Linked DNA regions of Homo sapiens: region 2 is linked to region 1. Evidence: fine-mapped expression QTL. A gene starts in region 1. The other region holds a variant in brackets. All regions are shown on one strand. Distances are between the middles of the regions. Region 1 holds the start of CYB561A3 (cytochrome b561 family member A3). Region 2 overlaps CPSF7 (cleavage and polyadenylation specific factor 7).

Region 1 (5,315 bases):
GACTCAACTACTTAACTCAGAGATTTGCTACCCAGCCTCAGAACTGCCTCCTCAATTCCTCCAAGGGCAGAGGACGTTTCAGATCACCAGATATTCACCTAAAACACTCTCCATCCCTCAGTGAAATGTAAGAGATCTTGATCAGCAGGCTCACTCATCTGACAATATCTACTTCCACAACTGTTTTTTTTTTCTTTGTAAGAGGAAAAAGTAAATGCAGTCCGAAAGGATCTGTAGCCACACCCTAGAAAAGGTCCTGGTTTACTGCTCTGTGACAGACTTAGAATAGACCCTGGGCACACTTTCCTGACAGAGAGCTGCAAAGTTATATTGCCCTGCTCACAATACACAGATAAGCCCTCCTACTTCCTGAAATAGAGCAAAGCAGGAGAAAAGGAAGAATGCAGTGAAGGACCAGCACAGTGATTCATGCCTGTAATCCCAGCACTTTGGGAGGCCCAGGCAGGTGGGTTACCTGAAGTCAGGGGTTCGAGACCAGCCTGGCCAACATGGCAAAATCCCGTCTCTACTAAAAATACAAAAATTAGCCAGGCACGGTGGCATGCGCTTGTAGTCCAAGGTACTCGGGAAGCTGAGGCACGAGAATTGCTTGAACCCAGGAGGCAGAGGTTGCAGTGAGCCAAGATCACGCCACTGCACTGCAGCCTGTGCAACAGAGATAGACTCTGTCTATAAATAAATACCCAGGAGTTCCAGACCAGCCTGAGCAACAGTGAGCCCTCATCTCTTAAAAAAAAAAAAAAATTAGCTGGGCGTGATGGCATCCACCTGTAGTCTCAGCTACTCAGGAGGCTGAGGTGGGAGGATGGCTTGAGCCCAGGAGAAGGCTGAAGTGAGCCGAGATCGCACCACTGCACTCTAGCCTGGGCGACAGAGCTAGACTCTGTCTCAAAAACAAAACAAAACAAAAAAACCGTGAAAACTGCAATGCAAATGCTTGAAAATATCCTCTCATTTGTTCTAAGGGCAGGCTGGGCTGTGATCCCAGGGTGTGCTCACTTTGCAGAGCCCCATTCTAAGGGAGCAGTCAGCAAGCTCTTCTGTAAAGGTCCAGGTAGTAAATATTCTAGGCTTTGTAGAGCACATGGTCTGTCACAACTATGTCATCAACTCTGCCCATGCAAGAGCAGCCACATAAACATCTTAACAAATGAGCACCACGGCTGTGTTCCAGTAATATTTATTTATGGACACTGAAGTCTGAGTTTCACATAATTTTCACGTCACAAGATATTATTAACTTCTTGCGAAAAAGGATTCTCCCGGCTGAGCTAAAACAGGTCACATCCAGGGGTAAGAAATGCTAGTTCCCATCCAGCCCTTAGTCTTAGAAAAAGGCTCTACGCAGGCTGGGCGCGGTAGCTCACGCCTGTAATCCCAGCACTTTGGGAAGCCGAGGCGGGCGGATCACATGAGGTCAGGAGTTCGAGACCAGCCTGACCAACATGGAGAAACCCCGTCTCTACTAAAAATACAAAAATTAGCCGGGCGCGGTAGCGGGCGCCTGTAATCCCAGCTACTTGGGAGGCTGAGGCAGGGGAATCGCTTGAACCCGGGAGGCGGAGGTTGCAGTGAGCCGAGATCGTGCCACTGCATTCCAGCCTGGGCGACAGAGTGAGACTCTGTCTCAGAAAAAAAAAAAAGAAAGAAAAAGAAAAAGGCTCTACTCCAAACTCTTGCAGTGTTACTTTTATAATTTAGAACTACAAATAAATGAAGGGGTAGAAAATCAGTTTGTTGCTCTCCCTCCCCGATGGACTGGGGGACTTCAAGAATCTTGAGGACCAGATTTAGGATACAAGCCCTAAACCCTCATCTTACAAATCAAAAACACTGTGACACTGGGGCCCAAAACAAGAAAATGACTTAGCCAAGGTAAGTGGCCGAGCTGGTACAGGAATTCGGGTCCACTCCCTCTCAGCTCTGAGGATTCCTTATTCTCAAAGGTAGCTTCTGTTAAAGTCGGAACATGAGGAGTGAAGGGCTCAATATTCCTGCCAAGGAGGTAGGTGAACAAGTTACCCCTTAGCACCGGAATAATTATAGACCCCGACTTCAGGCTGTGCCTAGGTCCGGCTCAGGTGTCCAAAGAACCGTTCCAGGCACCCGAGGGGTGATCCCTGACTCCTCTGCTGGGTGCTCGTGCCAGCTAACAATGGGTGAAAATTGGGGTGAGGAGCTCCAGGTGCTTTCTGCGTCCTCTGAAGAGCTTTCGTGCCTTTATAACCACCGCGTTGGAAGGAAGAGCGCGGAGAAAGGTGCCCACTTTCTAAAAGAGAAAATTGAGGCCGAGCAAGGGGATCGCGACAGTGCGAAGCGAGATAGCAGCGGAACCAGCATTCGAACCCAGGTCCCTGAACTCCCAGCCCCGGGATCCTTCTCACCCCTAACCACAGTGGGACGAAGTGAGGCCGGGATCTCCGGAACCCGCCTCTCGCTACCAGGCGCCGGAGCTGCCGCTCCCGAGGTTCCTAGGAGATGCAGAAGACACTGCCCTGAATGCCTACAGCCGGCTGGCAATGCCGCCCCAGAGCAGAGCGGCGGGTGCCGCCTCGCCTTCTTATAGGCTCGCAGCACTTCCAGTCGCGCGCGAGGCCTCCTGGGAAGTGAAGTCCGGAGACCAGGGGTGGCCGGCTCCCAGCGCGCCAAGCTGCTAACCCCCTAACTCCCGTTCCTCCTCGGCGTTTCTTCTCCAAGTCCGAAGTCAGGGTCCAGGACTGCTGCGATGCATCAGCCCCGCCTCTCATCCCCCATCCAGAGGAGGCGGAAATGTTCAGGTGAACGCGAAGCCTCCCACTACGAGCCGGCCCTCAGCAAGGCCGTGCGCAGTGTGGGCGGGAGCCCTAAGTCAGCTAGCGGCGACGCTGGGAGGGCCCGGAGCAGGCCGGGCCCCGAACAGCGAAAGCTCCAACATGGCGGCCAGACTGGCCATAGAGCGGGAAGAGAAAGCCGGGGACTAGCAGGCCGCACGGCGCAGACGGGGCCCGCCTCCTCCATTTACTTCCGGAATTTAAAGCCGGCTTCCGGAAGCCGGGACGATGTCCGCATGACAACCGACGTTGGAGTTTGGAGGTGAGAGTGATTGACGAGGAGTGGGTTAAGTGACCAGAAGTCAGAATTTTTGGTGCTGTTGTTTTGGGCTTGGGTTTTATGCTTTGTTGTTGTTTGCCAAGGAAGCCTCGTTTTTAAGTGGATTGGGAAGCGTGAGGAATACTGCCCTAGGTACAAAGGGAAGGCGGCAGGTAGCGGTGGACGAATTAAAGAGCTTCATGAGCTTGTGAGTCTCCACTGCCCTAAACTGGAGGGGATCGTCGTACGTAGAGACAGGCATGGGCGTTTCTGCATAACGGATCCTCAAAACAGCCCTGGATGGTGGCCTATGAGTAGTGGTTAAGAGCACGGGTTTGGCGTCACAGTTATGAAGCCGGGTTCTGCTGACTTGAGACCTGGAGGAATGCCTTGAGCTCTGACTTCTGTGTCCTTTCCTGTAGAATAGGAATAATTCCCACCTTGCAGACTTGTAGGGAGGATTAAAGGAAACGATCTTGGTTGACAAGTTTATCGTGGTGTGAGTACCTAGGTAGTAGCTATCAGTGTTATTTAATGCGGCCGGGCGCAGTGGCTCACGCCTGTAATCCCAGCACTTTGGGAGGCCGAGGCGGGAGGATCACGAGGTCAGGAGATCGAGACCATCCTGGCTAACATGGTGAAACCCCGTCTCTACTAAAAATACAAAAAATTAGCCAGGCGTGGTGGCACGCACCTGTAGTCCCAGCTACTTGGGAGGCTGAGGCAGGAGAATCGCTTGAACCCGAGAGGCGGAGGTTGCAGTGAGCCAAGATCATGCCACTGCACTCCAGCCTGGCGACAGAGCGAGACACTCTCTCTCTCTCTAAAATTTAATGAATGAGGAAACCGCGAACATATGTCCAATAAGGTGGGACTTCACCAGCTGAGGTGGAGGAGGTGCCTTAACCTTCCGGAGCCTCTGTGTAAAATGGGGATAATATACATTGTAATGGCTACTTCTCAAGATGGTTGTAGGATTACGTAAGGTTAGAAATATGAAAAGAGCTTATAAATTGCAAAACATTTTACCGATGCTAATTTAATCGCTAACACTCCAGAGCATTTTGAAATTTCTTTATAGATTTGGCACAGCAGCGGGTCATAGGACACCCCCAGAGCAACTTGTGGGTCTTGGAATAGATGAAAAGAAACAACTGCCACTGTGTTGCAACCATAACCCTAAAGATAAAGCTTTCCAGGAGACCCCTGTTTCCTCTCTGCTTTTTCTGCCTAGGGCACTTCACACTTCTTTGCTGGCATTTTTCCTGCCTAGTTAAATACTAGTCTATCAATTATGTAAGAGACAGCTTAGTCCAGTAGTTAAGAGCACAGACTGTGGACCCGTGCAGCCTGCATCTGAATACTAGCTCTGCCACTTACTAACGACGTGACCTTGGACAAATTATTTTACCTCTCTTGGCCTCAAATTTCTCATCTGTAAAATGGGGAAGGTAATAATGTATTATGTCATCTACCTTGTGAGGTTTAAATAATGTTAGTGCTTGTAGAACACTCCCTGGCACATTGTAAGCAATGTATAAGGATTTGCTGCCATTTTTGTTACCACCGCTACTACATGACCAGGCAGTCATTCTTCTCAGTAATACTACTAGATTCCTTTGGTTAGAGACAGCTCTGCATTGAGAAGATTCCAGGCATGGAGAAAAGCTGGTGAAGGTCCTAGAATAAATGACTTCTTGGGGGTTTTTGTTGTTGGTTTTGTTCACTAAAGTATCCCATGCAACTGGAGTGGTACCTGGCACACAGTAGGTCCTCAGTAAATGTTTATGGTATTAATACATTTCTAACCTTGCTTATCTTTTTGCTCCAACAGGTGCTTGCCTTAGAGCAAGGGAAACAGCTCTCATTCAAAGGAACTAGAAGCCTCTCCCTCAGTGGTAGGGAGACAGCCAGGAGCGGTTTTCTGGGAACTGTGGGATGTGCCCTTGGGGGCCCGAGAAAACAGAAGGAAGATGCTCCAGACCAGTAACTACAGCCTGGTGCTCTCTCTGCAGTTCCTGCTGCTGTCCTATGACCTCTTTGTCAATTCCTTCTCAGAACTGCTCCAAAAGACTCCTGTCATCCAGCTTGTGCTCTTCATGTGCGTGCAGTAAGGCACTCTGGAAAGCTGAACCCACGCAATTCAAAGGCCCTGACAGTGGTGATTTAGTGTCTTAAAGTTATTAGTAGGCTGGGTACGGTGGCTCACACCCATAATCCCAGGA
Region 2 (5,373 bases), 55 kb after region 1:
TCGGCTCACCACAACCTCCACGCCCTGGGTTCAAGCAATTCTCAATTCTCGTGCCTCAGCCTCCCAAGTAGCTGGGTCTATAGGCATGTGCCACCATGCCTGGCTTATTTTTGTATTATTAGTAGAGATGGGGTTTTGCCATGCTGGTCTCAAACTCCTGACCTCAAGTGATTTACCGGCCTTGGCCTCCCAAAGTGCTGGGACTACAGGCATGAGCCACTGCACCTGGCCTAAAAAAGACTAATTTAGATGTCAATGTAGATTTTTCTGGTGGGAAAAAAATGAAGGGAACATATGTACTTTCTGTCTTTAACCTTCTCTGTGGATTCAAGTTTGGCAAGATGATGCAAAGATGAAAACTGATGGAAAGCAGATGATAATATTTAGGGCTAACTTATTTCTTAGGAGATCTGATAATCTACAGACATTTACATTCATGTAGGAAACTCACAGGAAGGAAGTGAATATGGCTAATGTCACGATGTGAAAACCGGACCAGAACTCTGAAACTTCCTGTAGCCTCTTCTTTTAGAAACTAAAGATCTTATGCTCAGGGCTTTCAGAATCATGGCTGCTGGTTCTACCCACTTAATAATGAGAGCAGGGCAAAAGTTAGCTGTAAGGGCATAACATGCCTTAAGATGACATCTACAGACTTGCCTCTTTTTAGGATAGGCTACCTACCAGCTCTGCTTAGACTCCTAAATGTAATCAGATTTCATAGCAAACCATTATCTAGGCTGGACGTGGTGGCTCACACCTGTAATCCTAGCACTTTGGGAGGCCGAGACAGGCGGATCACTTGTGGTCAGGAGTTCAAGACCATCCTGGCCAATATGATGAAACCCTGTCTCTACAAAAAAATACAAAAATTAGCCGGGCGTGGTGGCAAGTGCCTGTAATCCCAGCTACTTGGGAGGCTGAGGCAGGAGAATCGCTTGAAACCAGGAGGTGGAGGCTGTAGTGAGCCAAGATTGCACCACTGCACTCCAGCCTGGGCGACAGGGCAAGACTCCCTCTCAAAACAAACAAACAAAAAAACACATTATCCAGTCAAAACATCATTCCTAAAGAAGACCCAGGGTCTATATCTGGTATTGGGTCTACTACACAGACACTAGATCTAAAGATCAACCACTGAGATGGAGATTTCCACAAGGCAGGAATTTCACTCTACAGCAAACACCACATCGAGATGGTATTAATTATTTATATTCTAGGCATTAAGTTGGTTTTCATGAGGGCAGGCCTAGATACAGACTAAGTAATACTGCCGGAGCTTCCCCAAGGCCAAGAAATCAGGTTACATATTGCTCTTCAAAGTATGCCGCTCTTGATATCTACAGTACTCCAACTTTATCTTGTTGAACTTTTGCCAGTAGAAATGACAAAATCAGGAAAAAAAAGTAAAGGTTAAGGAGAAGGCAGCAAAGGTAAGCACTGAGTTACCTGCACTGGCTCCAGATACTGCTTTGGAAATGGCACTGCTGGAAATTGCTCTGTTTCGCTTCATGATATCTTCAAATTCGGCTTCACTCACTGTAGAGGGTGGAGGGCCCGAATCTCGGCTGTACAGAGAAAATACCATCCTTGATTGCTCACATCCCTTATTATTTTTACTGTACTCTACAACACTTTGGTAATTTTGGCATAACACAGAACAATGCTAGACATCTGTAGCATTCATAACACCTGCTCCCGCATTTAATTAAGCACCTTAAAAAGGGGTATAAAGGACATGGTACTACTTCCCAGGAGTCAATGCTATGATAACAGAATGTCTATAAGGGAAAGAACAAGGATTCAGTGCTCACTTTCTCAGGGAGAATAAAATGCTTAATACACTTATTTACCCTGGCTCAAATCTGAAAGGAACAATAGTCCTTACCTGCCATGGTGGTTATAGGGGGCAGAGGCCTTCATGTAAGTATCTGGTGGAGGCCCCACTGTAGCGTTTGGTGGGGGGAAGAAGGCTGGATTGAGGTGAAGGGCAGGTGGGATGGCCCCAGGGGGAGGTACAGCAAGATGAGGAGGTAATCGAGGAGGTGGGGGCATGAGATGCTGGTAGTGGATACCAGGAGGAGGAGGAGGGACCCCAAAGCTTGAGGAGAGAGGTGGTGGGGGTGGAATTGGTGGTGGGGGCAGACCCATCAGGGGAAGGGCCGAAGGAGGACGATTGAAGTAGGGCAGCACACTGGGGGGCTTATCCACACGAGCAGATGAGGGTACAAGGTTCTCAGAGGGTGTGGCCCGTCCATCAGCAGAATCACTAGAATCTCGGGAATGGGCCCGTGGAGGTATTCCTATGAAGCAAAACAGAACTGATGTTACTGCCCAGGCTTTACACAAACCCACAGGACCAGTTCATCCTTCAGAAGTTATCAGACACCCTACAAAGGAAGGTGACTAAAGAGGCTGAGAAGGTAAAATCATCTACTGCCTTTTTTTTGGCTTCAGAGGTCAGAAGCAACTCAGTGAAGACATTAAATCCAAAAAACAATATCGTCCTAAATCCTGTCAAAGAATGTTTTCCATCCA[T/G]AACTCCAGAAGTGCTTCAGAACAGATTTAATTTATCCTTATATGTATCTTCTATTTTTAAATGTAGAAGGATCCTGATAGCCCACGAGAAAATGACAGTGTTCACTGATGTTCAGGTGAATTGCAGTTGACTTGAAACCCCACATCTCCTGAAGAGTTCAGGACCTCTCTCCTTAAACTAATACTAGTTAACCTCTTCCTGTTGCACACTTAAAATGTTCTCTTTGCCACAGGGTGTTGGCTAGGGAATTTAAGGGAAGAGAGGGAGTGGCAGGAACTGGATGGCACTTCTATTTACATACTAAAACTAGTAATCAGGGTGAGAAAGAGACACACATGAAGACTAGACAACTGGAGGTTAAGTGAAAGATAAGAAAAATTGGGAGATACGCCAATAAAAGATCCGCCCACAGCACAAGCAGATAGCACACAGCTGACAGTAAGGATGCTTAGCAAAAGCTTGCTACAAAACATGTCTCCAATCTGGGGAACTCCCGCTACATTTCAATGGCCAAAATCCTCTACCCTTCAGGGCAGCCTAACAGGAACACCATCACCACATGCTAGTATGGTGCTGTGCACAACAGGAGCTCAGAACATGTTTTAAACAGCTGGAAGCATGGATTCTGACATTGTCAAGTCACTTGGTTAAACTTGTTCCTTCTCTCCAGTTTAACAGTCTAAGCCTGTTTATTGTGGAATCCAATAGAAGAACAAGATCACATGGCTTTGGGGGGGTCTTGGAGATAGAAAGATGCCACTGGCAGCAAGTGTGGAGGAAAGAGTGCTCCTTAAACTAGAATATGATAGTTAATCCCAGCTCCTGAGTAAAGCCTAAGGTGGAATCAATTATGTTGACAACCACCTAGATTTCTCTTACAGAACAGTGCCAGTGCTGTCTTGTTCTTCAGGTCTCAAACACATGGCAACTGGCTCTTTCCTAGAGTTCTCTCAAACTGAAGAACAAAAAGGTATAAGGCAAGTGTCATCTGACAGTTAACCACTTTCCCAGCTACTACTGTTGTCACATCTGCAAAGGTTGTTTTGTATCTATGGCTACAAGTCCCAAAAGACGCAACATTTCTATGCAGAGGAAGTCCACCAGCTTTACTTAGTGAATTAACAGAGCCCAGGTCCATCAGCATGACAGAGCAGAAAAACAGCACTCAGTTACACAATCTTTTCAGCAAAAAAAAGTAACATGAAAAGTAGCTGAGTAGAAGTAGAACGTTACCCCCAATACAGTTGTAAAATTACATACCTAAGGAAAGTCAGGGGTGAATTACAGAAAGACTCCAAAACAGAGGGGACTTGAAAATACAACTTGTCAAGGAAGAAGAGTGTGTCCTTTCTAACATGGAACAACAAGAGTTCACACCAAATCTATCTAGGCTGTCAATCTAGTTAAAAGAACAGCTGTTCCTATGCAAGAGCAAAGTGGTCCTATTTCTACCTGGAGGATACACCCAATCAATACAAGGCACTATTTTGAGAGCTGGACCTAAGCAGTGACAGAACATCAGTGATGAAACTTTGCTGTTCCTCCCACTGTAGCAAAAGAAAATAAGGGTGGTTGGCTGTCTCAGGGAAGGTCTTGCAGGGTGGCTGCACTTTATGAGGTCAGGAAAATCCAAGGTCTAGTCCTCAGGTTTCTCAGGTTCAGAAACTTGCTTCAACTGGGGTGACTAGGCCCTAGGAGACTGATTCATGCTAACCAAACTCACAAGAGACTGATTCATAAACCATAACACCAATTTATTAATTTACAATGAGAAATGTAATTGCCAAGCAGACCAGAATACTTGTGTCGGCTGGTCAGCGAATTCTCTTCCTAGTAGGAGACCCTAATTGGGAAACCAAATTAGCATCAGAAAGTGGCTTAGTGAGTACAGTCAGAATAAAGAGAGTAAGATGGACATTGGGGAAACTGTCCTCAAACTAAGGTAGTTCTGAGGTAACTTTCTTTTTTCTTTTTTTTTTTTGAGACAGAGTCTCACTCTGTCACCCAGGCTGGAAGGCAGTGGTGCAATCTCAGGTCACTGCAACCTCCACCTCCTGGATTCAAGAGATTCACCTGCCTCAGACTCCCGAGTAGCTGAGATTATAAGCATGTGCCACCATAACTGGTTAAGTTTTGTATTTTTAGTAAAGACAGGGTTTTGCCATGTTGCCCAGGCTGGTCTCGAACTCCTGACCTCAGGTATCTGCCCGCCTCAGCCTTCCAAAGCACTGGGATTACAGGTGTGAGCCACCATGCCCAGCCCCTAACTTTTTTATTTTCCCTCCAAGATGGAGTCTTGCTCTGTTGCCCAGGCTGGAGTGCAGTGGTCTGATCTCAGCTCACAGCAACCTCCGTCTCCCGGGGTCAAGCAATTCTCCTGCCTCAGTCTCCCGTGTAGCTGGGATTACAGGCATGTGTCACCCACACCCGGCTAATTTTTGTATTCTTAGTAGAGATGGGGTTTCACCATGTTGGCCAGGCTGGTCTCAAACTCTTGACCTCGTGATCCACCCACCTCGGCCTCTCAAAGTGCTGGGATTATAGGCGTGAGCCACCGCGCCCGGCCTGTAACTTTCTTTACTAATGGGATATAACTGCCAAGCAGACTAAAACATTTGGTAATCAAAAGAGCACCCTCTCCCCTGGACAATGCTGGAGAAATATTGTTCAAGTCTTATTCTCCAACACTCCTCTTGGTTGATTCCTTACAGTATCCTTCCAATCAACGTTTATGAAAAGATTATAGGCACCTTTTAGTTACATTTTAGGGTGGCTGCTTCTTGATAATTTATAGAGAGGCATGTCTTAAAAATTAAGCCCATTCACCTAATGCC

Evidence for each region. PIP is the estimated chance that this variant, and not a neighbour inherited with it, causes the effect. A credible set is the group of variants that fine-mapping cannot tell apart.
Region 2: its variant is the best candidate, but not a certain one, in a credible set for the expression of CYB561A3 in whole blood (INTERVAL, PIP 0.83).

What each region holds. Positions count from the first base shown.
Region 1 is chr11:61,359,328-61,364,642 of GRCh38, forward strand. It overlaps CYB561A3 (cytochrome b561 family member A3), which reads right to left and starts at 2,555. Exons shown (of 7, transcript NM_153611.6): 1 at 2,406-2,555. TMEM138 (transmembrane protein 138) reads left to right here and starts at 3,047. Exons shown (of 5, transcript NM_016464.5): 1 at 3,047-3,093; 2 at 4,925-5,191. The coding sequence starts at 5,064. RefSeq lists enhancers at 2,106-2,325, 2,444-3,165, 2,576-3,065.
Region 2 is chr11:61,414,217-61,419,589 of GRCh38, forward strand. CPSF7 (cleavage and polyadenylation specific factor 7) reads right to left here. Exons shown (of 10, transcript NM_001142565.3): 6 at 1,889-2,303; 7 at 1,450-1,568. Among named protein-coding and RNA genes, the nearest start is that of CPSF7, 13 kb to the right of the region's middle. The variant T/G (reference allele first, on the strand shown) is at 2,539.